Homo sapiens: one gene and its partner. The protein of the gene in region 2 interacts with the protein of the main gene of each other region in a pairwise test. Each region holds a gene or a part of one and is shown on either strand. Other genes may lie near its edges.

What was found.
Region 1: the proteins of EFNA2 (region 2) and ZHX1 interact in a two-hybrid assay, tested with the Homo sapiens proteins (one study listed by BioGRID).

What each region holds. Positions count from the first base shown.
Region 1 is NC_000008.11:123,244,717-123,260,070, forward strand, and holds the end of ZHX1 (zinc fingers and homeoboxes protein 1), read right to left. Parts: intron 11,456-15,354; 5' UTR 11,231-11,455; coding exon 8,609-11,230; 3' UTR 8,606-8,608; intron 5,605-8,605; 3' UTR 3,740-5,604; downstream 1-3,739. UniProt on the Homo sapiens protein: Acts as a transcriptional repressor. Increases DNMT3B-mediated repressive transcriptional activity when DNMT3B is tethered to DNA. May link molecule between DNMT3B and other co-repressor proteins.
Region 2 is NC_000019.10:1,277,862-1,293,067, forward strand, and holds the start of EFNA2 (ephrin-A2 precursor), read left to right. Parts: upstream 1-8,011; 5' UTR 8,012-8,307; coding exon 8,308-8,447; intron 8,448-15,206. Other genes in the region: protein FAM174C precursor, read left to right, coding at 916-916. UniProt on the Homo sapiens protein: Cell surface GPI-bound ligand for Eph receptors, a family of receptor tyrosine kinases which are crucial for migration, repulsion and adhesion during neuronal, vascular and epithelial development.

The DNA of each region.
Region 1 (15,354 bases), on a different chromosome or scaffold from region 2:
AGGAGGCAGAGGTTGCGGTGAGCTGAGATCACACCACTGCACTCCAGCCTAGGAAACAAGAGCGAAACTACATCTCAAAAAAAAAAAAAAGAGAGAGAGAGAGAGAGGACCAGGAAATGGCAAAAGGAACAGAGGAGCACTTCTCAGTTCTAAGTCAGTTGTTCATGTCCTATCTGCAAGTAGGGGAGGGAAAGAACCAACACTTATTGAGCATCTATAATGAGGTCATGCTATGGGCACCCTATTGTTTTTATTTATTCTCATAATCTCTCTGAGTTTAGATACTATTATTCCCATTTTTATAGATGAGGAAATATTAATAGGATCTGAGAGGTAACTTGTCTAAAGTCCCAGGCAGTGAGCAGATCAGTTCAAAGTTAACTTTATTTGACATGTTGTTAAATATCCCCCAAAAACAAAATGGCAGAGCTTCATGGAGACTTGGAGAACTGTCTGTCACTGGCTGGTTCTGCCTGCCCCATATTCTAGCACCTTAGGTACTCTCATTTATTCTGTTTGTCTAGGCAGAATGGCTTTCTCTGCCTTGTCTGTACACATCCCAAACACGGCCTCTCTAGCCTGAGCTTACCACAGAGCTACAGTAATTAAAACAGTGTGGTACTGGCATAAGGATAGAAATATCGACCAATGGAACAGAACTAAGAGTCCAGAAATAAACCTTCACACATTTATAGCCAATTGGTTTTTGACAAGCGTTCCAAGTCCATTCAATGGGGGAAAGAATAATTGCTTCAACAGATGATGCTAGGACAATTGGATTACCACATGCAAAAGAATGAAGTTGGACCCCTGCCTCGCACCATATTAAGAAATTAACTCAGAATGGATTAATAACCTAAATATAAGAGCTAAAAATCATAAAACCCTTAGAAGAAAATTATTCATGACCTTGAATTTGGTAACAGATTTTTTTTTTTTTTTTTTTGAGACAGAGTCTCGGTTTATCACCCAGGCTGGAGTGCAGTGGTGCGATCTCAGCTCACTGCAACCTTCACCTCCTGGGTTCAAGTGATTCTCCTGCCTCAGCCTACTGAGTAGCTGGGATTACAGGAGTGTGCCACCACACCTAGCTAATTTTTTTATATTTGTAGAGACAGGGTTTTGCCATGTTGGCCAGGCTGGTTTTGAATTCCACCTCAGGTGATCCACCTGCCTTGGCCTCCCAAAGCGTTGGGATTACAGGTGTGAGCCACTGCGCCCAGCCTGATAATAGATTCTTAGCTATCACACCAAAAGCACAAGCAACAACAACAAAAATAGATAAACTGGGCTTCGGAAAACTTAAAAACTTTTTTGTGCATCAATGACATTATCAAGAAAATGAAAATACAGCCTACAGAATGGGAAAAATACAGCTAATTCTCATTATTCACAGTTATTACATTCTATAAAGTCACACTGAATTAGCAAATCCTGAACACATGCTCCTAGGGTTAGGGTCCTGGGAGCCTCTGGTCACAATATATTTATCAATCAATCAAAACATCACCATGTTTTGTATTTTTCTGTTTAAAGACACCTTATTTAATACTGTTGATTGATTAACACTGAACTCATGACTAACAGCACTGTAACTCATGCCTGAATGAAGCTTATCTAACGCATATTTTCTCCATAGGGCACATGACAGCCTTCTAATATTTAGAAACACTGACAACACTTCAGCACTACACTTGGGACCATTTTAAACTGCAGAAAGCAGAAAAATATGGAAAACACAGCACTAAATAGACTACAAAAGGATGCTTTTTCATTCCTATGGACACACACACACACACACACACACACACACACACACACACACTTCTCTACAGTATGAGACCTGAAACAAGGCAAAGCATCTCTTTGGTTGACCTTTGCTGGGAACATCTTTTTGTTGCCATTCTGTACATGTGCAGGAATGACCAAGGAAGTACTATGAATACTGATTTGGGGGTTACAAATACATTTTAATGTGTAGGCAAATTTGCATATACAGAATCCATAATGAGGATCAACTTATTTGCAAATCATAATACAGACAGTCCCCAACTTATGATGGACTTAAGATGGATTTACTAACACATAATCCCATGGTAACCTAACCCCATAGTAAACTGAGAAACACATGGATTTATAATTTATGATTGTGACCAGGTGCAGTGGCTCATGCCTGTAATCCTGGCACTTTGGGAGGCTGAGGTGGGTGGATCACCTGAGGTCAGGAGTTTGAGACCAATCTGGCCAACATGGTGAAACCCCGTCTCTACTAAAAATATAAAAATTAGATGGGCATGGTGGCGGGCACCTGTAATCCCAGCTACTTGGGAGGCTGAGGCATGAGAATCGCTTGAACCAAGGAGGCAGAGGTTGCAGTGAACTAAGATGGTGCCACTGCACTCCAGCCTGGGCAACAGAGACTCTGTCTCAAAAAATAGTAATAGTTTATGATAGTTCAAGTTTATGGTGAGTTCATCAGGGTATTAAATGGATTTTCAACTTACAAAAATTTTAACTTACAATGGGTTTATCAGGACAAACCCCATTCTAAGTCAAGAAGCAACTGTATCTGATAAAGCTGTAACATCCAGAATATATAAAGAACTAAAACTCAGCAACAAAAAGGCAACCCAATTAAAAACTGGGCAAAGGATTGAACAAACTTTCAATATATTCAAAGGAAGATATACAAATAATTATGTGAAAAGATGTAGTTTTGATTTGCATTTTCCTAATGACATTATCACTCATCATTAGGGAAACACAAATCAAAACCACAATGAGACACCACTTCATACTTACTAGGATGGTTATAATTTTTATTATTTTATTTTTAGAGATGGGGTCTCACTATATTGCTCTCACTGGCCTCAAATACCTAGGCTCAAGTGATCCTCCCACCTCAGCCTCCCTGGTAGCTGGGACTACAGACACAGACCATCGCACTGGGCTTATAATCACTTTTTAAAACTGAAAATGAAAGGTGTTGGCAAAAATGTGGAGAAACTGGAATGCTTGTATATTGCTAGTGGAACGTAAAATGGTACAGATGCTTCAGAGAACATTTTAGCACTGTGGAAGAGTTTGGTGGTTCCTCAACAAATTAAACACAGAATACCACATGATTCAGGAATACTACTCCTTGATATACTCAAAAGAACTGAAAATGGGTACTCAGATCCTTGTATACCAATGTTCACCGCAGCATTATTCACAATTGCCAAAAGGCGGGAAAAAAACAAGTTTCCATCAACAGATACATGGATAAACAAAATGTGTGTGGGAGGAAGTGCACGTGTACAGACAAACACACACACACACACACAATAAAACATAAATCAGCCATGAAAAGAAACAAAGTCTTGATATACGCTAAAACATGGATGAACTTGAAAACATTATAAGTTAAAATAAGCCAGACACAAAAGGGCAAATATTTTAGGATTCTACTTCTTTGAAATATCAAGAATACACAAATTCATAGAGACAAAAAGTAGATTAGAGGTTACCAGGGGCTGGGAGGAATGGGGAGTTATTGCTTAATGGTTCCGAGTTTCTGTCTGGGGTGATGAAAAACTTTTGGAAAAGTGGTGAAGGTGGTGCAGCACTGTGAATATAATTAATGCCATTGAATTTACACTTAAAAACTGGTATAATGGCAAATAGTATGTGATATATATTTTACCACAATGTTTTAAAAATTGACTTTGTTAATAAAATGAAAAAAAAAAGGTCACTGTAAACTACTAATCACTACTTTTATTTTGTATTCAAGGTCACAATCAACCAGAAGAGGGTTCTTTTGCTCTGTCAAATAAATATATTTAAAAGCTAGCAAACGTCAGAGAAGAGTTTTATCAGGCCTATAAAAGAGATGAGGGAAATTAATAGTTATATACAGCTACACAGAGTTAACATATTGCAAGGGAAACAACTATATTCAAAGGCTTCATTTCTAATACTTGACATTTCAAATTTTGAGAACATTAAAATTATTGTCAAACAAAACTCAGACCACATTAGCAATGTTTATAAAAGGGAGCAATTTAATCATTATATTACAGAGTGCTTTAAGAAGTTTTTAAACGTGTAAAAGAAAAAAAAAAAGCTTAGTGCATTACGGTCTTTACATTGCTTCTTTTTTAAAAAAGTTAACAGTAGTATGAAAAAAGCCACCCACAAAGCCAGCTGTCTGAGTGAGGAAATCAGCTACATTGCAGCATTTTGGAATTACTAATAAAGCTATAGTTAAAAAATAAAAAGTTTATAAAAATGAAAGCAGCATGCATATTCAAGGCTTTTTCATAACATTTTCAATGGCTGAAAAACATTTAACCAAGAGCTTAATATTTATTATCCATTAAATTAGAGAAAATAAACTGGCTAAGCCTACATCTGGTCATTCAGAAAAACATGTTAAAATCCAAAGCTAATTAAACTGAACATTTCTTCTACGAAGAAAGCGCATTTTGAAAAATGGTCCTATGGTCACAAAAGAAAGGGTTCTTCCCAATATGAATGAACAGCACCAGTCTTTACAAAGTTTGTAAATTAGTATGAACTTTCAGTCTCCTGATACGGCAAGAGTTAACAGTTAACACTCCCATGATTCATAAGTGAAAAGCTAACTTTTAACTCATTATGATCAGTTCAGAATTTTTTCTCTATTCACTGAAACTGTTATAAAATTTCACTGAAAGATAACTCTTAAAAATTCTGATCTGACACCTGTATAAACATTTCTGATTTCCACGATTGTAAGAAAACACTAAGTATACATTTACTACGTGATTCTTTTTCACATTTTTGGTGCAGTATTTATTTCAAAGCTTCACCCTATCCAAATTACCATGTCAGTTTCTTTTCCTTCTTCAGAATTAATTTCCTGCAGTTTAATAAAAAGCAAATCAGCTTCTAATGGAACAAGTAACAGTAGAAACAGTGGTATTCATGGATGTGTTTAATGAAGGATCCAATTATTAAGGGCCAGTGAAACCATAAAATCTTATTGTTTCAACATATATAAATAGGCTGTTTTTACATTTGAAATTGTATAAGCCCATGCACAACTTTTAATCTTAGTGCAGGGTCTGATAAATAAGACATAGTAATAAATCAGGGTTTTTTTTTTTTTTTTTTTTTTACCCATTTCTAACAATTTTTACTGTAAAATTTTTGGTCAAAGTTCTAAGCTTAATCACATCTCAAAGAATAGAGGCAATATATAGCCCATCTTACTAGACATACAGTATTAAACTGGACTGAATATGAGGACAAGCTCTAGTGGTCATTAAACCCCCTCAGAAAGTCTAAGATTCAGAATGTCTCCATCATATTAGAAGAAAAATGTACTGTATTAAAATTTAAATTGCATTTTTACAAGTTGTTTTTTAATTAGTGTTCTATTTACATTGCAGAACTTCCACCAACTGCAGTAGTTTAACTTTGGCACAACATTAAGTTCCATTTCTTTTGGGTATTGGATCCTGCTTTTTGAGTGTGTATGCCCCAAAACGTTTTCAATGTCATCAAAGATTGGGCAAATTCACAGTAAATCAGACATCTTGAGTTGAAGAATTGATTCTCCTTCAACGTTTTAGGCAGCTAAAAAAGAAAAACATCATAAAAAACTGAAAATTTAAAGAAAACCATATTTTAATTTTTACTACTTTTAGAAATAAAAGTGAAAATACATCTTTTGTATTCTCTTGAGATTACCTGCCACATATGTCTTCCATAATACACTAGGCTTTGTGTGCAACTCATCTATGTATATGTTCTTCATATGCTAGATTTGCTTATAAACATTTATCATCTTTATGTAATAATTTATTTCAAACTGTATGAGCAGGGAGTATATATTTCATTGTCAGTATCTGTAATAAGCAGACTATGAAATCTAAAGACTTGTACTTTTTTCTATTTCTATACAAGGTGCAAAAGATATATATGTACCTCACTTCCTGTAATAACTATTTTGGGAAGGTTTTGGTAACTTTTTTGGTAAATTGAACAATATTTAAATGAAGAAATAACTATTTAGAGAAGGCTATGGTGAATCCTCTTATAAGTGAAAAATTATTTTACTCAGCCAAGGATAACTTGATGTTTCAGAAATTTAGACTTTTGTGTATTTAAAAAGGCATGCTTCTATGCTATCACAAAAGTATATAATATGGTTTGGCTCTGTGTCCCCATCCAAATCTTACCTTGAATTGTAATTATTAAGGGACAGTGATACCACAAAATCTTATTGTTTCAACATATGTAAATAGGCTGTTTTTACATTTGAAATTGTATAAGCCCATACATAACTTTTAATCAGGGAGTGTCGGGGGAGGGAGCCTGGTGGGAGGTGACTGAATCATGGGGGTGGACTTCCCCTCTGGCTGTTCTCATGATAGTGAGTGAGTTCTCAGGAGATCTGGTTGTTTGAAAGTTGTGTGGAACATCCCCTTTCGCTCTCTCTCCTGTTCGGTCATGGTGAGATGTGCTTGCTTCCCCTTCTTCCCCTTCGCCTTCTGCCATGACTGTAAGTTTCTTGGGGCCTCCCAGTCATGCTTCTTGTTAAGCCGGCAAAACTGTGAGTCAACTAAACCTCTTTTCTTCATAAATTACCCAGTCTCAGGTCGTTCTTTATAGCAGTGTGAAAATGGACTAATACAGTGCATGTATAGCATACATCATACAGTCTTTTGAAAACTGTAGTTTTAGGATGAATTTTCTGACCAGAATTAGTATCCATTACAGTGTTAATATATAACATAAGAATTATCTATACAAAATTAAAGGTCAAACTAAACTGTACAGAAAAATTCACATTATTTTTGGAAGACTGCAACTCCCCAAAAAAATCATTGCAGAGGTTACAACAACAACATTCACTGCAGCAACAAATTTGTTGATTTAATCTTGGCTGAGTGCACATTCTTGTGTTTAGCAATAAAAAAAATGCCTGTTAAAAATATTTTATGTATCTGGGTCAGAAGAAAGCCTGCTCTGAAGATTTCTGACATTAGGAAATGGAGGGCTGCACTTCAGGATAAAGCTGTATGAAACTGTTTAACTTCTTATAACCTAAAATGATTACATTATACCCTATAACCTGGAATGATATTTATACTGCTTATTAAAACAGGTACATTTTTAGTTTCATCTGTTATCCCTTAAAAAATATTAACAAGGAGAAAACCTGAAAAAGGATTGCCAAGCAGTAAGAATAGTGCCTGGTACATATTAAGCTCTCTATAAATAATTGTTAAAATAAATAAAACCAGAGAGAAGATGTAAGGGAATTAAGGAAAAACTGCACAGAATAACAGAGCATAAAAGTAGGGGATGGGATACTCATGCAAAAAGCCAAGGAAATAAGTAAGCATGCTCACGTATAAAATAATAATGAGGGTCTACGTCTCATTTCCTTCCTTACTGTTTGAACACAGCAGTCATTTCTGATAGCAAGATGCTATTTGGACTACTGACAGACATACACAAACATTTCATGACAACTGCATTGTTTTCAAAACAGTGTACTTTTACCCCGGAACACTCCAAAACAAAGAATAGCAAAGAATAAAACTATGTTATTAAATTCCAGAAGTATTAAGAATTCAATTCCTAACTCCAAAGCAGGTATCTGATTTGCAACTACAGTTCAACTTTAATTAATCCAATTTATAAAAGAACTAAGATTTAAGGAACATGCCAAAACCTTTCAAATTTAAGCCATATTTATTTGCATTTTTAAGACTACAGAGATATACTTTAAATCAAATACAATGTTAGTGCTGGTAGCAGGTTTGTTTTATACCAAAGAATGAAAAGATATTTTAAGCAATTGGGTTTATATCAAATCTGTTATTTGCCTTTTGATCTCTAAAACAGAAATAATTTATATCACAGTTTTCAAAGACAGATGCCGCCTAAGCAAACATGAATTTATATATGGCCTAAAACAGACCTTTGACTTTTAACAGAAAAAGATATTGAGTAATTTTATAAATTACTAAAAAGATACTGAGTAATTTCATAAATACATAAAGCATTTTAAACTCTAGTTAAAAGTCTAGTAAAGTTTTGGGAGCAATGCAATGAAGATGAAAAGATACCCATTTTCACCTAGTTTCCTAAAACTGCACAATCCTCAACCCTGTGGTAAGTCTTTCCTTTGGTGTACTTTTCCCCTTCTTTTTAGTTTTCATTTTTGAATTATTTCCTTAAATAGGCAAAAAATGAAGCTTTAGTGAAGGGGGCATTGCAATAAAATACATTTTAGTTATCTTTAGTATTTGTTTGTGAATCCCCTCAACCTGCCTGCCAGTCTCCCTTCATAGAGATTGGGTAACTTTCCTTCAAAACAAAGTAAAAAAAACCCAATTCATATGAAAAATAATAATTAAGACATTAAACTCTACATAATAATAATAAAACTACACATGATAATCATTTATCTCTTAGCTATACTAGTGGTACCTAGTCTTATTAGGGAAAAGAAAAACTACTTCAGAAAATATCAAAAATGAAGATGACTGATACAACAAGGTGACTGTTCAAAATGTATGTGGTTGATGAACATATACGCAGATTAAAAATTTTCTTAACTTACATTTCAGTCATCTGATTTAGACAGCTTCCGTTTCACATGTCGTGGAGGTTCCCAAGTGTCACTATCATCTGTTTCTTCTTCATCCTCTTCCTGGTCATCAATAACTTCATCTTCCTCCTCATTTTCCTCAAATAATTCTATACCTAATTCTGATCTTCTCTGTCTTTCTGCAAACCACTCTCTGACCTGCTCATAGCCCATATGTGATTTGTTAACAAGTTCATCAAGGTCTTGCTCATTAAGAAACTTGTGCTTCAGGTAATAATCCTTAAGTATTGCAGTTCCAGTTTTAAATTTTATGAGTGATGGTCCCCTGTCCCAGTTGTTAATTCTTTTGCTTCCTCTAGGCCGCCCACGCGGTCTTCCTCTTCCCCGTCCTTTGGGTCTCCCTCTCCCTCTTTTCCTAAGGGAAGACAGACCATTCATACTACTTGAATTGGCGCTCTGATAGTAGTAGTACCATTTCAAGTTTCCATTCTTCCAAGCATAACGGGTGTCCCCAAACCAACTAACTATGTCTGTTCTAGCAAGCCCGCTTTCTTTGGCCAACTTGTCATACTCTTCTGGTGATGGCCACTGTGTCCGGACAAATGCACTCTTAAGCATGTGCAGCTGCTCAGGTGTTTTTTTACATATCTTGCCTGTACTCCCTGACTTAGGTGCACCAGATTCATCTGCAGGAGAAGTTTCTCCAGCTTCTTCTTTGGAACTACCTGCATTACTTTCATCTATTTCCATTTTCTCTTCCTTTAAAGCTTTTGATTTCTTCTTCTCTGTAAACCAAGCATCGATTTCTCTTCTGGTAAGTTTGGTTTGTGCCCTTAACCTATTTAATTCTTCATCTGTAAGTACAGAGCTGTTGAGAAAACTTGCCTGAAGGACACGAAGCTGCTCTGCAGTTTTCTCTTTAAACTTTTGGGGAGTAAAGTCAGGAAAAGGATTCCAGGATTGCTTAGGCTGTGCAGTACCAACAGTTGGGGATTCCGTGGTTTCATCACTGGAGTCTATAATAATGGTGGTAGAGGAATCATTGTTGAGATGTAAGCACTGATTACTCTTTGAATTTCTCTGGTTGTACCTTGTGTCACTAAACCATTTTTTAATCTCTCCTTTCGTCAGGCCTGTTATTTTCATAAGTCTGATAATTTCTGAATCATGGGGAAACTGATTTTTAAGGTAGCTAACTTTTAATTCTGCCAGTTGCTCTTTTGTCTTTTTTGCCCGAATGCCAAATGAATCAGGGTTTACCAATGCAGTTTCATGTTTGACACTTTGAGAAGTTGGAACTGCTGCTGTTGCTGGCTTTGTTTCTGCAGTAGGCTGAGCAGCAGGTACCTGACTTTTCTGTATATTATTTTGACTTGGAACGCCTGCCACTGTCAAGGCTATAGGTGCTGTAACTGGCAAGGTGTTTGTTCCAGCCACTTGAGTAAGGACCAGACCAGGCTGACCAACTATTTGGCATGTCTGTAAAATAGATGGTAAACCATTACTCCCTGTGGAAATGTGTGTAGGAATAACAGTTATGGTCTGAGGTACAGTATGCACTGTTCCATTGAATTGTTTCCTTCTTGCCTCCTCTACTTCCTCGGGAGTCCAACTAACACCATGTTTTAAACGTTGGGCTGAAAACCATATCTTGATCTGTTCCTCTGTATATTTTGCTTGAGCAGAAAGAACTGTAATTTCTGACATTGTTGGGTAAGGGAACTTGTTGTAGGTGTTAAGTAAAAGGGGATTGTTATCCAATGCAGCATTGTAGGTGGGAATGCTATTAACAGGGATTAAGACTTTGGGAATCAAATTAGAATTCTGCTGAGCAGATACAGCAGTTATCACCTGTGCCAATCCAGGAAGAACTGCTGCTGGTGTCACTACCGTGCTGGCAGTACTTGGATGTATTCTGTTTACAATGGAAGTACTTGTATTAGATTCAGAAGCTGAAGAACTTGGATTTTCTACAATTTCTTCACGGTCTGGTTTGATTTCATTCTCTTTCTCTTCAGGAACGTCCTCAACTGAGTTATGATGAACTGCAATCCGTTTATTTTCCACTTTATTTTTCATCATTTTCATGATAGGAGTTTTACTGATAGATATTCCCGAAGAAGAAACTTCTGTAGATTCTGCTTGCTCTGCATTCTCCTCTTTAACAAAACTACCATCAAAAGTCAGATCATTTATTGTTTGTTCAAAGATTGTCTGGTTATTACGTTTCACCATAGTCAACTTAAAATTCTCTTCTCCTGGGTGATATTTCAGATTATGCTCAGAAAGTGCATCATACCTTTTGGTAAGAAAATTGCATTCGACACAAACATAGGATGAATTTAGCACTACATTGGGATGTTCCGAATCCACATGAAAAGTAAACATATTTAGATCTGGAGTTTGAAAAGTACAATATTTACATTCATATCCACCTTCAACTTTTTTATTTTGCTGATTGTCTGAATCCACAGATTCATGAACCTCTTCATCACTTGAGATACTCTCTGCTCTGGTGTTTTCTACAGGTGTAAGCACAGGAGGACCTTCATCCAAATCTGATATCAACTCAAGGTCTGGATCTTGTTCACTGGCAAGGACCATGCAAGGTGTTGTTGATTTTCGCCTGCTTGCCATTCTGATGTTATGAGGAAAAGCTCAGTGGTGATTAAAAAGCATCGAGGCTTAAAACTGTTCAGTGTTCTTCATTTGAAAACAATGGCTTTTGGTTCTTCAAGTCCATTTTTGTGCTCAACAAGTCTCATTAGCAGCTTTCTCATGGTGCAATCAAGTAAAGAGCTTATTGTTGGCAGATAAAATACTGCTGAATTTCTGAAATTTTTGAAGCACAACTCCAATCACCTACATTAAAATAAATTTTAAAATGTTTTAAAATGAGTAACTATGATCTTTTAAACAAATTATAGTTATAGTTCACTTATATGAAGTGGCTGGATAGCTCAGTTACAAAGATCTAGAATAAGATAAGAATCAGAAAAAAATGTCCTCTAAAGATCAAAATAAATCTCTCCAGGCCAACTCATTGAATGTTAAGTACTTTACCTTGGGTCAGACACAAGCTTATTCATTTAAATTTTTTAGCCAGCTATATATTAGAAGACAAGGGGGAAAGGGCCTGCTTTGGCAAGCACACTATTATTAATGTGAAATGGCAATGTTAACAAGGAGGAACTTTAACACTATAAAAAGCATTCACAGATACTAAAATATTATGGCCATTAAGTGTGTAAGAAATTCAGCCTGGCCAACATGGTGAAACTCCGTCTCTACTAAAAACACAAAAATTAGCCAGGCGTGGTGGCAGGTGCCTGTAGTCCCAGCTTCTCCAGAGGCTGAGGTAGGAGAATCGCTTGAACCCAGGAGGCAGAGATTGCTGTAAGCCAAGATCATGCCACTACATTCCAACCTGGGCAACAGAGTGAGACTCCATCTCAAAAAAAAAAAAAAGACAAGAAATTTAATCCATTAGTTCATTAGTTATGTCCTCTTCTTCCTACTGGTCTATCTCATCAGCCAAAAGCATGCTTCAAGTATGGCAAAAATAGCAAAGATGGAGGATGAATGATCAAAGTTTCAGAAACATTATTATTATTATTATTATTTTTTGAGACAGAGTCTCACTCTGCCACCCAGGCTGGAGTGCAGTGGCGCAATCTTGGCTCACTGTGACCTCTACCTCCTGGGTTCAAATGATTCTCTTACCTTAGCCTCCTGAGTAGCTGGGATTACAGGCGCTTGCCACCACGCCTGGCTAATTTTTGTAGTTTTAGTAGAGATGGGGTTTCACCACGTTGGCCAGGCTGGACTCGAACTCCTGACCTCAGGTGATCTGTCCGCTTTGGCCTCCAAAAGTGCTGGGATTACAGGCATGAGCCACCGTGCCTGGCCTACCAGAAACATTATTCTTAGCACTTGCCACAATGCTACCAAAAGTTATAAAGCAGATCTAATCACATCAGTCTCCTGACACAGGTTCCTAATGTTGAAGGAATAAAGTTCAAACTCCTTGTGGGACATATAATCCCTTTCACAACCTAGTCTAACCTCACTTTCCTTCCTCCTGTTTCCTTATGCTTTAGGTATACCAGAAATGGCTGCCATTCCACAGACATTCAATGCACTTTCAGACCCTTACTCAGGCCCTTCCTTAGGTTAGGACACTTGATGTGTTGATCTGTGTGCCCTCTAGGACAGCAGTCCTCAACCTTTTTGGCACCAGGGACTGGTCTCATGGAAGACCATTTTTCCACATACCGCGGTGCGAGGGGATGAGATGGTTTTGGGATGAAACTCTTCCACCTCAGATCTGGCATTAGATTCTCACAGGGAGTGCGCAACCTAGAGCCCTCGCATGCACAGTCACAATAGGGTTGTGCTCCTATGAGAATCTAATGCTGCTGCTCATCTAACAGAAGGCAGAGTTCAGGTGGTAATGCTTGCTTGCCTACCTCTCACCTTCTGCTGTGCGGCCCAGTTCCTAACAGGTCATGGATTGGTACTGGTCCATGGCACAGGGGTTGGGGACCCCTACTAGAGATCACCTTCTCCCTTTCATTTGGTCCCATTTCCTCCCGTTTATTTTCTAGTCTAGTACTTACCATACTGTACATGGCAGAGTAATGTTACATTTCTGTCCCTGCACCACCATCCATATCTGTGGTCTCCTTACTCTAGATATTGTGTCTCATTTTTAATAACAGCTTGCTATAATTTGGATGTTTGATCCCTTCAAATCTCATGTTGAAATTCGATCCCCAATCTTGGAGGCAGAGCCTAATAGGAGGTGTCTGGGTCATGGGGTCAGATCCCTCATCAACAGTTTGGTGCTGTCCATGTGGTAATGAGTGAGTTCTCGCTCTACCAGTTCCTGCAGGAGCTGGTTGTTAGGAAGAGCCTGGCACCTCCCCACTGTCTCTCTTGCTTCCTTTCTTGCCATGTGATCTCTGCCCACATGCATTCCCCATCATCTTCTGTCATGAGTGGAAGCTGCCTGAGGCCATCACCAGCAGCAGATGCTGGAGCCATGCTTCTTGTACAGTCTGCAGAACTGTGAACCAAAGAAACCCTTTATCTTTCTAAATTACCTAGCTCTGGGTATTCCTTTATAGGAACACAAAGAGACTGAGACACAGCTTTTTTGAGATAAAACAAAGTCCCCCAAACTCTGGATTGAGCCAAGGAACTTTGTATCTTCAACCTAATACTCTCCCAGCTGAGCTATTTTGGCTGACATCTCATTAATGTTGCATTCCCAAGTGCATATAAGAAGCCTGAATTTAGGGAGGTAATCACTCAATGTTTATTAAATTGACTAGAATGAAGAGGAAAATAGTCCTACAAAACTCAACAGGACCTGCAGGAGGCATCACCATAGAGAACAGTATCTGAAATTCACAATAATAACTTTAAATAATCAAGAAAAAATGAATTAGGATCATAAAATATATTTAAATAAATTTTATACCTAAAATTTTTAAAATAAAAAGTTTTATGCTAAGTAAAGTTTGTGTTTCTGAAGTCTAATCCAACTGAAAACGAATAAAATGGGTAAGTGATTTCATTTATTCTTCACCACAAATTAGAGCTATTTTTAATTTACTGGCATCCCAGCTGAATGGAGAAGAAGAGAGTTTGCTTCAAAAATTATTAAGCAAAACCAGGTCCCTATGAGACAATACATCTAGTCAGTAAATGGAGAGACATTTTTAGGAAAGAGAGCAGTCCTAAGAGAGAATATCCTGACTTTGAAGGACGGTAAAATCCTCCTCACTGGAATTATTCAAATACAGACTACACATCCAAGTAGCAGAAGGAAAATTGGACTAAATGTCCTTTGTTCCCTAATTTCCCATATTACCAAATAAAGAGCATCAGTTTAAAAATAATAGTGGTATTAATAATCCAGATCCCTACTCTCAAAGATGTCATTCTTTTTTTCTTTAAAACACTCTTGATTTCTAAGATATTATAAAGAAATCACTGATATTTACAACTATTTCTTAACCAAATGTTATAAACTAAGCCAATGTTATCTTTTAATCAAATAGGGGTTGCCATTTTTTTTTTCAAGTATCAACACAGATGTTTGATCATTTTTTGTCATTAGAAACAGGGAATTCCTTAAATGGCTCCAAATAAGTGGTCCAGACATGGTGGTACACATCTGTAATCCAGCTATTCAGGAAGCTAAGGCAGGAAGATTCCCTGAGTCTACGAGTTCAAGACTGGGCAACATGGTAAGATACTGTTTCTAAAAAAAATAGTAAGTGGAAGAGTAATAAATGAGCAGCACTCATATTTTGAACAGTAAAGGGAATTGTTGAAAGGCAGAGGAGTAACCTATTTTGTGACTGTTACTTTCCTGGAATCTGAGAGAGACTATATTTAATTGGGGTATAATAATAGTTGGAAGGCAAGAGGGTTTCTTTCTGAAACTTTTTCCTCAAAGTGGTGGTTTTCAAACTTTTTGTTTTAAGCAGGGGAGCCCTTTCATCAAACAAAATGCTATGAGAAATCCCAGGTCAAAACAGATAAAAGAGAAGCCATCGGCCAGGCACAGTGGCTCACGCCTTTAATCCCAGCACTTTGGGAGGCCGAGGCCAGTGGATCACAAGGTCAGGAGATCAACCATCCTAGCCAACAGTGAAACCCCGTCTCTACTAAAAATACAAAAGTTAGCCGTACAGGTGTGGTGGCGAGCGCCTGTAATCCCAGCTACTCGGAAGGCTGAGGCAGAATAA
Region 2 (15,206 bases):
CCTCCCAGGTTCAAGCATTTCTCCCATCGCAGCCTCCTGAGTAGCTGGGATTAAAGGTGCTCACCACTACACCCGGCTAATTTTTGTAGTTTTAGTAGAGACAGGGTTTCACCATGTTGGCCAGGCTGGCCTCGAACTCCTGACCTCAGGTGATCTGCCCGCTTCGGCCTCCCAAAGTGCTGGGATTACAGGTGTGAGCCACCGTGGTCAGCCTTCTTGCTTTTTTAAGGCAGGAAAGCGGCTGCAGGGCTTAGGGTAGTGGTTGCTCCATCTGGGCCCCTCCCTGAGGGATGAGGTCTAAGTCAGGTGGAGAACTGACTGCAGGATGCTTCTGAGCGGGCGGGGTCAGGGAGGGCCTCTCCCTGGTGTAATGGGGCTGGCTTCTGGAAGAGTGTCTCAGGCCGAGGGAACAGCAGGGAGCGGCCGGGCTGCGCAGATGCCGGGCGGGACTGGGGTAGGCCTGGGCATCGAGGCAGCTGTCAGGGGTTAGCAGGGTTCTGGGCAGGGAATGATGGGTATGTTGCGCTGCAGTGTGGCTGCTGGGGGGACCTTGGCCTGTTGGGGGGTGGCAGGCATGGAGGCTGGGAGACCAGGAGACTGGGCGGCCTCTGGGGACAGCTCTGACTTTTTGAGCCCCCAGGGAGGGAGGCACTGGGATCCCTCCGCATGCTCTGACTCCATTCTGGGAACCCCTCCCAGGTTTCTTCTACCTCCTGGCTGGGGGCCCCTTCCCCCGGAGTGGGCAGTTGCACAGGGCCCAGGAGGCCGGGGAGGGAGGCCAGTGGGGGGAGGCTGGGCCCTGGTAGACCGAGGGGCCTGGACAGGCTGCCTGCCCCTGCCTGACCTGGGTGAGCCTCTGCCCGGCAGGGCGGGCCCTTCACTCCTTCCCTCTCACCCTTGACCCCCTGCTTTCAGATGCTGAGCCAGGGAGGCGGCCCTTCCAGCAGCCATGAGGGAAGGACAGGAGATGGGGCCCACCCCAGTGCCCAGCAACCCCCTGCTCCACCGCTCATTCCCCTGCTGGCCCCGGGGCTGGTCTCACCCAGTGCCAACCCGAGAGCTCCTTTTGGAACCTGCACAGCCCGCCGACCTGTTGCCACCTGCACCCACCGCTGGACCATGCAGCCTCGCCTCCTGGATGCTGTCCCAGCCTGGCCGAGGGTCCCAGGTGAAGACTGGAGGGACCCCAACAGCCACCGCCCAGGACGCTGAGGCTCCCTTGCCTGACTGTGACTTGTGCCTCTCTCCTGCCCCCGTGGGGACATGGCAGCCCAGAGCCAAGGCTGGGTGGGCAGGTGACCCAAGGAACCTTTCTGGGAACACCTTCTCGCCGGGCTGGGAACAATAAATGCAGCCATGTCTCTGCAGCTGGTGCTGACCCCATGCCACCTCTAGACCCGTGCGTACTGGTGCAGCCAGTGTGGGGGTGGGTGGCGGAGCAGGGCTCAAGCCAGCCTCGGTTCCCCATCTGCGACCATGCTTGGGTTCTCCAGCCTTGCTCCCAAGTAAGGAACCCATCTTCAGCTGCCTGGGATGAGGCCCTGCCTGTCAGCATCTCTCTTCCTAGAGAGAACTCCTATTCATCCGTCAAAGCCCCTGCCCCAGGGCCCCCTCTATGCCATCCCTTCAGCCTGGGTCTCATGGGCCCTGCCCTGGAGGATCCCCACATCACCCTCATGAATACCTCTGGCAATGATTCCAGGGAGCCCCAGAGCTCTGCTGCAGGAGGCTGGAGTTCCGTGCGGCCTGGGTCCCCATGCCGGACACTCCTCCCCCATCTGCCTCCTGTGGGACTTGGAGCCTGAGACCCCATCCCAGGCAAGGTGCTTAATCAGCTTCCCTGGGGCCTTGTTCTTCCTGCAGGGGCCTGTGTCTGGGCGGAGTCCAGCCCTGGCCTGTCATCCTGTCCCCCATGAGGTTAGCCTTGGAGAGACCATGGTGCGTGGGTACCCATGGCCTGAGGTCCCCCACAGGCAACCTGTCTGGAGCTGCCACTGCCCTGTCACGAGGAGGAGCTGCCACCAGGTGGCAGCCTTGAGCCGCCCAGTCCTCTGGCTGTCTCCTTGGTCCTAACCCTTCATGTGGGAAAGCAAGTCCAGCACAGCCCATTTGTCACTCCACTTCCTGAACCCACCGTGTCCTCACATCCACTGGGGGATGGGCAGTCCCCCAGGTTTGCATCTCACATACCTGCCGACCCTCCCTGTCTGCCGCCAGGGTTGGGAGGGGCTGTCTCCACTGGGGGCCAGGCTATCGCCCCTTCAGACCAGGGTCCCCTGTCCTGGTACTATCTGTTCCCTTGGGCATGTCCGTCTGACCAGGCCTGCCAAGACTCTGCTTACGTTTCTCCTTCCCCTTCCAGTGCCCTGGGTCCTTCTCTGCCCCAGCCTCAGCTGCCGCCTCCAGGAAGTCCTCCCTGATTGCCCACCCCAGCCTGTTCTTTAGGGGAATCCTGCAGGGAAGGTTGGGGAAGCAACCCTTAAAGTGAGGGCAGAGCCCGAGGGAGGCCCCTGAGACTGCAGGTGGGGAGGGCAGCTTGGCTCAGCCTGGCTGTGTGTGGGACTGGGGACAAGCAAGTCACACCTATGACTCGGGCTCTGCTGTTCCCCATCTGTCTGGCCGTTGCGTCTGTCTCCAAACTCCCGTTTGCATCTCTCCATCTGCCTCCTTCACTTTGTCTCTGTCCGTCTCTGTCTCCATGTCTGACCCTTTGGGACACACTTTTAACAGGCACGGAGACACCAGCCCCGGCCCCCAACCCTGTGATCTGTGCCCCCCGTCCCACAGCTCTGAGCGCTTTCACCAGCTTCAAAAGGCACATTAATTACTCTAATGAGGTCAGGAGAGACCCACGCTCTGCCATCCGGAGTCGGAACATGCCGCAGCCCCCAGCCCAGCCGCCGCCGCCCCCCGCTCGAGCAGGGAGAGGGGCTCTGCTGCCTCCGTCCCCTCTGCCTGTCGGGGCCCGTGCTGCACCCCACGTTGCTGCAGAGTAATTGGCAGCCCCCCAAGGTTAATGCACTGTTAGCCAGGGGTTCTCCTGGGCTCAGAGCCGGAGAGGGGCCTGTCAGCGAGAAATGAAAGGCCCCAGGTCCCGGCTGGTGCTCGGCTTGTGAGCGTGTGTGTGCCCGTGGGAGTGCGTGTGTGTGCGGGTGCCTGGGAGCTTGCGGGGGCGGGCAGTGGCTTCCTCCACCTCTCCCACGCAGACACGCAGACACGCAGGCACCCACAAAATACAGTCTCATAGACACACGGTAAGCAACTCGGACAGTTCCATGGATGGGACGCCCGCAGCCCCGTGGGACACGCGATCACACACATGGGTGTGACCTGCTCAGCTCCTAACCCCACGCCGGGGAGTGTCTCAGACCCATGCCCCCCACCCTTGCCCCTCGGTGTGCCCACTGGACAAGCAGCATATCAGGTCTGTGCCTCTGGGTGGGGGGGGGTGGGGGTCTCTGCTTCAGCAGCGGGCCCCGCCCAGGCTGGAGTCCAGTGGACTCACTGCGGGGCTTCTCCGCTTGTGAAATAGGGGCGGGTGGGCGCTGGGGACGTGGCCTCAAAGGCGGGATGCGTTGGGTTCCTTGCGGCGCCGGCTTGTGCCCACAGCTTGGGGCCGACATTCATCCTGGGGAGATAGAGACAGGGCTCCTCTGCCGCCCTGGTGCCGGGGTGCCCCAGGGATGTGGCCCCATGTGCCAAATCACAGTCACTCGGGTTGGCAGGCGACGGAGGGCTCTCTGCCTCTTCTGGGGGTGCTGAGACCCCTGTACCCTCGACTCCCCACCTCCAGGGATCTCACCCCCAGGTGCCCATCTCCTCTGTGGGGGGCCTGAGCCACCACTGACCCCACATTAAGGCCACTGACGTCCCCGTCCTAGGCCAGCCAGCCCCTGAGAAGCACCCAGTGCTTTGCTGTGGGACACAAAGCCACACATGGCTATTCACGTTATTTCATTAAGTTACATAAAACTGGAGGTCCAGGGCCTCAGTCACCATGGGGAGAGGTCCTCAGTCGCCATGGGGAGAGGTCCGGGTCCTCAGTCGCCGTGGGGAGAGGTCTGGGGCCTCAGTCACTGTGGTGGACAGCGATTGGTGGGGGCAGGGACATTTCCTTTGTCTTGGAAAGTTCTGGACGCTGGTGGTGTCTGGACACTGGAGAACGGGTCTGTGTTCAGGCCCCAGACCTGAAGGTGGGATGAGGGAGAGAGGAAGGAGGAGGAAGGGGAGGAGGGAGGGGACAGAGTGGGAAGGAGAAGGATGTGAATGGAGAGGAAGGATGGGAGGAGGAAGGAAGGAAGGAGGGAAGGGGAGGAGGAGGAAGGAGAGGAGGGTGCAGAGGATGGGGGAAGGAGGGGGGAGGAGGGTGTGAAGGGGAAGGAGGGAGGAGGGAGCGGAGGACTGAGAAGGGGAGGAAGGTGTAAAAGGAGAGGGAGAGAGGAAGGAAGGGAGGGGGTATTAAGGGGGAAGAGAGTGGGAAGGGGGAGGAGGGAGGGGAGGGTAGTATGAAGGGGGAAGGAAGGAGGGAGGGGAGAAGGGTGGGAAGGGGAGGAAGGAGAGAGGGAGGGAGGGGAAGGTGTGAAGGGAAGGAGGGAGGGGAGGTGGGAGGGAAGTAGGGAGGGGGAGGGAGGGGAAAGGTGTGAAGGGAAGGAGGGAGGGGAGGAGGGAGGGAGGAGGGTGTGAAGGGAGGAGGGGGAGGAGGGTGGGAGGGGAGGAGGGAGGGAGGAGGGTGTGAAGGTGTGAAGGGAGGAGGGAGGGAGGGGAGGAGGGAGGGAGGAGGGTGTGAAGGGAGGAGGGAGGGAGGAGGGTGTGAAGGGAGGAGGGAGGGAGGGGAGGAGGGAGGGAGGAGAGTGTGAAGAGAGGAGAATGGGAAGGATGGGAGCTGGGGAGGAGGGAGGAGGGTGAGCTGGGAATGGGGCTGTGTGCCTGCTCTTTTCCACCACTGGCTGCAGGGGTTGCAGGAATCTTGGGTCCATGGCTGGATGGGGGTGGGGATTTTCATGTTACCCACTGGAGAAAGGGATACATTTTTATTTTCAAGGACAGCGACCCAGCCCAGGGGAAACGCCCCTGGCCCCTGGGGCTAAGCGCAGACCCCAGCTCCGTGCTTCGCAGGTGGGGGGCGATGGACAGCGGTGGGGCTCCCGCCCTGAGTGGAGCCTGTGACCTGCCCGGGCCCCAGCGCCCCGTGACCCCTGCCGCCTGATCCTTGCCTGGCTGAGATGGGGCTTCTGAAGGCTGCCGGCACCAGGGCAGGCAGCGCATTGGGTCCAATTTATTCTGTAATGAGAAATTCTCCCCGCATATTTTTAGCTTCCTCCTGGCGTCGCGGCCTTTGAAGGCTGAGGGGCTGCGGGACGCTGATCCCAAGCCCTGTGGCCTGGCCATGTGGGCAGTGGGTGCTGGGCACGGGCTGGACAAGTCCCTTCCTGAGTCTGGGTAGACCCCAGTCCCAGCAGTGCAGAGCAGGGGGCGGGGCCAGACCCCATCAAGCCCTGTACTGGCTCCAGACCAGGGACTGAGGGCGACCCTGGATAACCCCTGACCTTGGCGGACACCTGTTCCCAGAGTGAGCCTGATTTCTGACCCTTGGCTCCACAGGAAGCTTACTCTAGAGTGACCTCCGGCCGCGGCTGCGTCCCAAAGCCGGGACAGCTCCCAGCCCCAGGAGGGAACAGGGCTTCTTGGACCCCCACAGTGGCCCCCCTGCCAGGCAGGGGTTTGCCGGGGCAGCCTCGCCCAGGGCCAGGCCTCGGAGACGCCCTGCCCTCCCCTCCCTTCCCCAGGTCCTTCCTCTAGGAGCGGCCAGCGGGCGCGGGGAGGTTGAATGGGGGACGCACCGCCTTTGTTCCCGTCCCTGCTTGGGCTCTGACCTTGAGAGAGACAAGAACAGAAGGAAAACGGAGCTTCTGCTCAAATCCGTTCAGCGGTGGCGGTGGTGGCGGCTCTCGCCTCGGTGGCCCCTGCATGCAAATGAGTGGCCCTGCCATGCCTGGGTGGAGGTGGTGCCCTTCCAGCTCCCACCTGTGCAGGTCCCAGTCCTGGTTTGAGAAGAGACCCCCTCCTCCCGACCCTGGCCCACCCCTCCTCACCCACGAGATCCCTTGAAGCAGGAGGGGGCTTCTGGTCCCAGGGTAGAAGGAAGCTTCCAGAACTCCCACCTTTGCCAGGTGGCATGCTGGGGCCGGGCACGCCAAGACCCCAGGCTCACGGCCCCTTGTCCTGTGCTTGGGTGCAGCCGCCACACTCTGCTCCGAAAGTGCTCACCTCCGGGAGTGGCCGTCCCCCTCCCTAAAAGAGCCCCCCACCAGACGGAGCCGCCCGGGAAGCTTCTCCAGCCTGTCTGGGCTACAGAGCCTTGTGTGGCTAGAACCCAAGGCCCTCACTCCAGGGGTGCTGAGAGAGCCTGTCCAGAGGGCCTGCCTCAGCCACCACCTGGGACAGGTTCACGCCCTCCACTGAAGAGACACCCGGCCAGCCCTGGGCCTTCGACCTGGGACGTCTGTAGTGGGGTCAGGGGATGAGACCTGGAGCTCAGAACAGACGGGCTGAGCTCCCTGGAGGAGAGAGAACTGAGAACCTTGTCCTGGCAGGGACGCTAGAGCACTGGGTGGGACAGACCTTTCTGGAAGAGCAAGATTTTAACAGGAAGAAAAAGTGGAAGGACTTCCCAGCAGGACCCAGCCTGAACAAAGGTCAGGTGGTGTGGCCCGCGTGGCCCGCTGGGGAATCGGGGGAGGAGGGCACGCAGGAGACACAGGACAGAGCCCACCACGTCTCAGAGCTGTGGGACGGTGGTGGGTCCGGTCCCCACCCCACCTTGCTGGGGCACAGGTTAGCTTGCCCATCTCTGGGTTCACGGTCCCTGCCAGGAGTTTGGGTAATGCCTCACACAGGGACCTTCGGGTCCAAGGGCTGTTGGTGCTTGCCCTGCAGTTCCCTCTCCTGCACTGGGCCTGGTGAATGACACTAATTCAGAGACGTACAACACGATCTGGGCATCGCCAGCAAAGTCCAGCCAGCGTTTGATGACAGCCTACCCTCCACAAGCTCAGAGTCTGGTGAGGGAGGCTGTGGCATGAATAAGGGCAAAAACAGAGGGCAGGCCAGGTGCAGTGGCTCACGCCTGTAATCCTAGCACTTTGGGAAGCCCAGGTGGGAAGATCGCCTGAGCCCAGGAGTTCAAGACCAGCGTGGCCAACATGGCCAGACACTGTCTCTATAGATTGGAAAAAAGACAAAGCAGAGGCCAGGCCCCCAGTTCCCCACCTGTGTCAGCCTACCAGGAGGAGAAATCACTCGGCGTTCCCTGAACAGATCAGACCCCGGGTCTTTGCACAAGCTGTGCCCCCGGGCAGCGGCCCTCCCCTGCCTGCAGGATTCGTGCGTGGAGACTGATTTGCTGTCGGCCGGGGCTTCACTCTGGGCTTCTTGGATCCCATCCCCAGCTGCTCACACTCCACATCGGTCCACCTACTATGCTCCCGGCACCCTTAGGGCTGAGGTGTAGGGACTTACTCCATCCCCAGGGAACAGCGTGGGTCCGGAGAGGCGACTCCCAGGAGGGCCCCAGGGAGGTCGCAGCCCGAGCAGCTTTGGACTTTGGCCAGCGCCCCTCTGAAACTCTGCCCCGGCCCCCGCAGGGAGACTGGAGTTGGCCGAGCCCGATTTGGGACGCGTGCGTCGGGGTTGGTGAGGCTGCGGATAGCGCTGGAACCGGGCAGGTGAGAGGCCCGGGACCCAGGGCCGGGCCGGGTGGAGCGCGTGGGGGCGCGGGAGGCAGGGTGCGCCCCCGCCCCTCGGAGACCCCAGGCCGGGCCACGCGGATGCCGGCGGGGGGCGCGCAGAATCGGGGTCGCTGGGGGCAGGCCCCGGGGGACGAGCCTGAGACGGGGTGGGCCGGGGCAGGGGGCGGGCGCAGGCTGGAGACCCCCGCCCAGTCCCCGCGCGGCCGGGGCACGGCGGGAGGGGGCGCCCGCGGCCCTCCCGACGCTCGGGCGGGACAAAGGCCGGAGCCCGGGCCCCTCCCCGGCGGGTGCGGCGGCGGCGGCCCGCGCTCCGACAGTCCGCGCGGCCGGGTCCTGCGCCCGGGGCGACCCCGGCGCCCCGCCCCGCCGCCGCCTGACTTCTCGGCGCCCGAGGTCGCGCGCGCGGAGGCGGGGGCGGCCCGGGATCTCCAAGCGCCGCCGCGCCCTCCTCCCGCCCGCCCTCCGCCCGCCCGCTCGGCGGCGGCGGCGGCGGCGGAGGAGGCGGAGAAGGCTGGCAGGCGGCGGCCGGGAGAGCGAGCGCGGCGGCCGGACCGGGGCCATGGCGCCCGCGCAGCGCCCGCTGCTCCCGCTGCTGCTCCTGCTGTTACCGCTGCCGCCGCCGCCCTTCGCGCGCGCCGAGGACGCCGCCCGCGCCAACTCGGACCGCTACGCCGTCTACTGGAACCGCAGCAACCCCAGGTGAGCGCGGCCGCGCGCGGGGGGCGCCCGGGGACCCCCCAACGCCCCCCAAGCCGCGCCCGGCCTCGCGCCCCCGGAGCTCCGGGCGCCCCCCACGCGCGCGCCGCCGCCGGGATGCGGGCGCCCGGTTCCCGCGGGAGCCCCCCAGGGAGCTCCGGCCCCCCGGAGTTTGGGGGACTCGCCCTTTTCGCGCCTGCCTTCCCCGGGGCGCCCCATTGCCCTACGGACTGTGGGGACTCGCGCCCCACATCCCCCAGAGCGCCGACGTCTCCTGGAGTTTGGGGAACCCCTCTGGTACCCTCCGATGCCGGGTAGCCCCTGAGTTGCCTGCCTGGACTTGGGGGGACCCCTGATCCACCCGCTTCTCTGGGGAGCCCCCTCGGTTTCGCATTTGGTGGGGATCCCCGGGGACCTTGGCACCGGAGGTGGGGGACTGTGGCCCTCGAGGGATCTCTGGGTTCGTCCTGCCCGCAGGTCCCCAGATGAACTTGGGGAAGTTGGAGTGTCCCTCCCTCAGGACCCAGCATCTGCTTCACTCCAGGGGGCCAAGGGCCCAGCTTTGAAAGGAGACTGAGGGGCCGGGGAGCTGGGGGTCAGCCCCGGGAGGGGCAGTGGGATGGAGTCCTCTCTTGTCCTCTGGGCGCTGACCAGGAAACTGAGGTGCAGAGGGGATGAGGAGCTGGCTCAAGGTCATGCAAGGGGGGGACTTGGGGGCAGGACCCAGGTGGCCCAGTGCCCTGCCTGCCACGCCCGGCCGAGATGCCGCACCCGCCTGCTGCAGGCCCCCTTGTTTTGAACCAGGTCCGGGCCAGGCACAACGTGGGGGACAGGAGAAGCCCCCGTTGGTCAGAGCAAAAAAAGTTTGCCGGGGCCTGGCCATGGCCTGGACGTGGGTAGAACCCTCTGAACCATCCCAGGGTCTCCAAGACAGGAGCAGGCTGCAGCTTCCCTGGGGGTCCCGTGGGAGCCGGGGCTTTGGGGGTCCTGGGGCTCGGGAGGGAGTCAGCCCCAGCACTCAGGGTGTCACCGTCTTCCTAAGGCACACGGAGCTGCACATCGGGGGCTGAGGCGGCCCCCCCCCACTCTTCTGCTACTGGTCACTTTCTCTCCGTTTTCCAGCCGCTTCCTGTGCCGACCGAGCCGCCCTCTGGAGCCCGCCACCCCTCCTTGTCCCCTCTGTCTCCTGCTGTCCTCGGTCCCCGGGAGGAAAGTTGCATGAAGGGGTCTCTTTGAGGCGGGCTCGGGGACAAGGGCGGCCCGTGTTCCGCCGTGGGGGTGGGGAACACGCACAGGCCCACCCCCCACCCTGGTCAACGGCCTCGGGTCGGGCCCTGGGGGCTGAGGGCAGGGACCCCGGGCCGCTGGGGGACGGCTGGCCCACCTCAGAGCGGGTCCCCGAGCCGCCCGCTGTGCTGGTCACATGTGGGTTTGATTAAGGCTGTCGCTGGCCGTGCGGGGAGTCCAGCGGGCAGCGCTTCCCCGGCCCAAGTTTTTGGTTTCAGCTGCGGAATCTCCCGTCCCCAGCGTGGCCTGTCCTTTGTTCTAGCAAACGCCAAACACACGAGGACCCGGCAACCGGGGGAGGAAGGTGGTCACCAGGGCCGTCCTGCTGCCCCACCTGCCACAGGGCTGTGGGCTGCGGGCCGGACCCCCGGCCAGGGGAAGGAAGTGGCCTCCCCAGTGCCTGGCTTGGCCCAGCCACCTCCTGTTGCTCCGGGTCTGACCTGGTTGCCCAGCTCAAACCGCTGCCTGAGGGAACGGCCTTGCTGGTCCGCAGAGCCGACCTGGGCAGCACCGAGGCTGCCTCCTCCTTCCTCTCCTGCCTGCGGTATCCAGGGTTGCTGGGGACGGAGCCGACACCCTGCAGTGGGGCCCAGGGCTGGGTGAGCACCTTCCCGGGAAGCCGGGATCCAGCCAGAATCAGGGCTTTGTCGCGGACATCAGGGGTCTCTGCAGTTCTCAGATTTGGTGTCCAGGGGCACCTGCCCGGGACCTGTGCCTGAGTGGCGGGGGTGTCAGGCACAGCAGGGGGTGGTGCTGGGCCTCCGTATCCAAGGGGACCCTGTGGAGGGGACATCGGCTTGGGGAGAGGAGTGGCGTCAGCCGGCAGGCCTAAGGTGTGAGGCTGGGCTGGCCGGGGAGGGATGATGGGGTCGGGCAGGTGTGTGGGGGATGCGGGGACCCCAAGTCTTTGAGAGGGGCATACAGAAAGGCACTGGAGACGGGGACAGCCGCGATGGGGGGCAGACAGCAGCGTGGGCACCAGGGGACCGTGTGCTCGATGGGGCCTGCAGGCCCGGGCAGTGCCGCAGCGTCGCCGGCCGCCCCTTCCGCCCATTGGCCTGGCACCTGTGCCCAGGCGATGACTGTGTGGTCTGTCTCCACATCACACCCTCTCTGCTGTGAGAGGCGATGCCTGCACCCAGGGGACCCCGCACCCACCTCCTTGGGCCGCTATAAGGTGGGGCCCCGTTGGGTGGTCTGGCTGGCCGGCCCCGCCACTCCCACCGGTGACTGCACAGCGTCCGTCCAACCCACTCCCCAACCTGGGCTGGGTACCCCTGAGCTGGCCGCCAGGAGTCTCTGGGCCTGTTCCCAGCCGACCCGCATCGGGCTGGGGCGTCCAGGGCTTGGACCTGGCCGGCTGCCCTCACCTGTCCTGTTGGACCTGGCCGGCTGCCCTCACCTGTCCTGGCCACAACACCGCGTGTGCATTCCCACGGCTGCTCATGTGTGTTTGCGTGCAGCGGTGGGGAAGGGTGGCGTGCAGGTGTGCCTGGAGTCGCATCCGGCTGCAGGTTACATGTGTCTGTGTGTGGCAGGAGGCTGCGTGAATCCACAGGGCACAGCTCTGGCGTGTTTGCACATGTGTCTGCGTGATTGCATATGAGGTGCATGTGTGTGCATGAGTGTGTCTGTGCGTGGCACCCGCGTTTGCATGTGCGTGCCCTTGCACGGGATGTCTGCAGTGTCCGAGGTCCCTGTGCGTGTCTGCCTGTGGCATGCATGCGTTTTGTCTGTGCGTGGAGTGCAGGTGTGTGTGCGTGTCTGCGTGTGGGGTGCATGTAAGTGTGTCTCCCTGGGGGCAGTGCTGGCTGGCTGAGGGCCTGCAATGTGGGGGCAGTGGTGGCCCCAGCACGGTCCACAATGGCAACCCCGCTGTTGGCCCTCCCTCTCCTCCTCCCCTGGGGACGGGACCAGGGCCCGTGTGCAGACGGCCATCAAGCCTCAGAGCAGGGTGGACGCAGGGGCCTGTGGTCCCCGGGAGTCCCCACCTTCTGATTGGAAATCTGCAGCCTTGGGGGCACTGGGTGGGCGCTTGCCCACACTGGGCATCTCTGGGCTTCGGCCACCCTCCCGGGGTTCCCCACGGACCCAGTGGCCCTCGGGTGTGGGCAGCAGCCGGGTTCCCCTCAAACACTGGATGGAAAATGGTGACCTATGCAAGGGCTCACTCCCCGAGGGAGGAGCCGTCCCCCAGCAGAGGGCAGAGGTGAACGGGGTGTCTCGCTCCCCGTGGCTCCGCTGGCGTCCCTCGGCCTCTCGGGGAGCCGGCTTTGAAGGGGGTGATGCCGTGTTCTGCTGCATAAGGGTTTTTTGTTTTGTTTGAGAGAAGCTGGTCCACTCGGCATTGGGGGCGCTAGGAGAGCCGGGCGGTGGGCCTGGGGGATTCGGGGCCTGAGGGTGGGGTCCTGGAGGCCGTGGGGTACCTGGACTCAGACTCGGGAGTCTGGGAGACCTGGGCATGACGTCAGGCAGGTGGCTTAGCAGCCTGGAACCCCCAGGCCTGCTCTGCGAAGTGGGGGTGACGGAGCCCTGCGGTGGGTGCGGCTCGGCCGATAGGGCCTGGTGTGGATGGGCAAAGGCCTGAGGGTGGTCCCAGGGGTTAGTGTCCCCTCCCCAGAAGGGAAACCGAGGCAGCTCCTGTGGTGGGGAGGATGCTTCTGCCGAGGCACCATGGTCTCTGTGTCTCACGGTCTCTTTGGGTCTCTGTCTTCCCCATCTCTGGGCATCCTGGGGTGCCATGGGTGGCCCAGGCCTTCCGCCTCCACTGCAGGCCTCCCTGGGCGGCCTCAGTTTGCAGAGAAGGGAACAGAGGTTCCGTGGCGGGGGGCCGTGAACGCAGTGGGATTTGACCTTCCCCCGTCTCTGGGCTGACGTCTCCGCAGGTCTGCAGGGGACTGGCCCTACGTGGGTCCCTCGGGGTCACGGCGGAGGCAGTGGGTTGTGCATTCATGGGGGTCCGGGTGGTAGCGTTTCTGTGGAGCCGGTGGTCTCCTTGTCATCCATGAGGGTCCTGCCCCGGTGGCCGTGTGTTCCCCGGGACACGGCTTCTCTCCTCCCCAGGAACCGGGATGCAGCCAGGCCTTGCCCCTCAGTCCTGTGTGTGGGACCAGCCTCTCCTGCAGATGGGTCCTCAGGGAGAGCTGGGCTTTGTACCTTGCTGGGGGAAGGGCTGAGCTGCTCCCGTCCCTGTGCCCACCGTCCCGTCGCCCCAGACACGCGGCTGGAGCCTGCGGAGGAGCAGACGAGCCGGCGGGGTTTTTGCTTTAACCTCAAGCAGGCGTTTGAACTCTGTGGCCGAGTCGGTCCTGGTGGGGGGCTCGTGCCACACCTGCTCCCAGACCAGGCTGGTGTGGGGTCTGGCCGAGAGACTCAGCGGCGTGTCCCCCCAGCTCTGTGCGCCCCTTGTCCACCTGCCCTGTGGGTCAGGGGCCCCCAATTCAGGGACAGAGCAGCCGAGGCCCTGAAAGACGGTGACTCACCCAAGGCCACCCGGAAGTTGGGCAGAGTCCAGGGTGTCCCACCTGGGGCCGGCCCGGGGGAAGCCAGGGACAGCCCTGGGAGGGGCAGGAAGGTGGGTGGCCGACGGCAGCTGCACTCTGTACCAGGGCCACCCACGCCCACGGTGACGGAAGCCCAGGTGGGGCTGACCCTGCCCGGCCCATCTTTTTCCTATTTTGCTTCATTTCTAGGGCCCTGCCTCAGTTTACCCTCCTGCACCACAAGGCCATACTTGTCCTTTCTTGGGCAGACCTTGCACCATCCCGGGGACTGATTTCCCTTCAGGTCCCACCCAGGTCCTGAGCAGGAGGAAAAGCTCCAGTCCTCAGTCAGGGGGGACATCTCTTCCGTCCCTGGAAAAGCCAGGTGTGGGTGCTGTCACCCCAGCAGGTCTTGCTGGGGGTGGCAGGAGGGGACGGGCGGCCTCAGCCCCACGCTGGGCTTCAGGACCCGGGCTGCCTGCTCATCCGGCCAGCCTGGGCCTCCCCGGGAGCTTCTCCACCCTGGAAGAGAGATGCAGACGGGTGCAGGCGTCCACCTGCCCACCCACGGGGTCCTGGCTGCCGGCCACACCACTGCCTCAGTTTCCAGTCCTGGAAGGCAGCCCAGCCCACCCCCACCCCAGTTTTGGGTGAGATTCCTAATTAGTCGCTTAGCTATTAGCGTCTAATAACTTGACAATTGCCCGATTGGAGCTAATTAGCTCCAGGCCGCTTGCTGGAAGCTGGTGACAGCCAGGAGGCCCGGGTGGGCAGGAGGGGAGCCCTGCTGGGTGAGCCTCTGCCTGGGGCCTGGAGGGCTGCCTGGAGGCGTGGACTTTGGCACCCGCAGGTTGAGTGAGTGTGGGGGGAAGGTGTGGCCCGGCAGAGGGAACCCGGAGGAGTAAAAACTGCCACCGCTGCTCTGTCTGGGAAAAATCCCAAATCAGTCATTAACCCCTTAGTGAGAATTTCAGTCTCTCTGCCGCTCCGGGGAGGATTTGCATATCGAGGCTTCATCACTAATGGAGGAAGCGAAGGCTTTGTCTGCCTCTCCCCAGGTGCGGTTTTGGGGTGGGGGCCCCCTCCCCCCTGCAGGCGCCACCCTCAACAGGGGCAACGCGCCCACCTCGGGCTTGCCCGCCAACTTGGAACCGGGAATGCCAACACAGCAAGGCCGCTGCTATTTTAGAGACGCAAAGGGAAAAATACGGCCCCACTCCGGCAGGCAGAGCCGGGGGTGGGGGTTCCCCTGGGACCTGCCCTCCAACACACACACCTGTGGGCTGCTCCCCACAACTCTGGCATTGCAAAGTCCTCGCCTCTTGACCTTTTTAATTCACTCATTATTGAGCACCACTGTATGCAGGGCCTGTGTAGGGCCCTGGGGAGGGGACAGAGGAGGCCAACATCAGGATCCGGGATTCAGACAGCAAACCCTGTAAAGAGCAGATGTGATATGGGGCGGGGCACAGGGAACAGCACTGCAGGCAGTGGGAACAGCAGCTGCAGAGGCCCTTGGTGGGAACAGGGACAGCCGGGAGGCTGGTGTGGCTGGAAGGGAGGAGTCTTGGAGAGAGGAGGATGAGGAGGGCGCAGTGGATGGGCCACACAGGCCTGGAGGGGTGTGGATTTTATTCTGAGGATCAGGAATGGATGGAGGGCTCTGAGCCGCCGCCAACGTGTTACAGGGTCTGTTTTGCAGAAGAGCGAGGCTTGGGATATGGGGAGGCTGGGCCCCGGCAGACCCTCACCGCAGCCTGGAGGGGCCCGGGCACCTGGCCGCTCAGCCACACAGAAGCCTCGGTCTCTGACATTTTACCGAAGGCAGAACAGGAGGAGAGAACACAGTGGTGTCAGACGTGGGGGAAGGAGGCACCATTGGGGAACCAAGAGGCCAGAGGGGGACCTACAGGGCTGGTGCTGTGGGCACTTTCAGAGGCTGCTCTGTCTCAAGAAGTGTCCTGCTAGGAGCCAGGTTCTTTTTTTGGGTTGA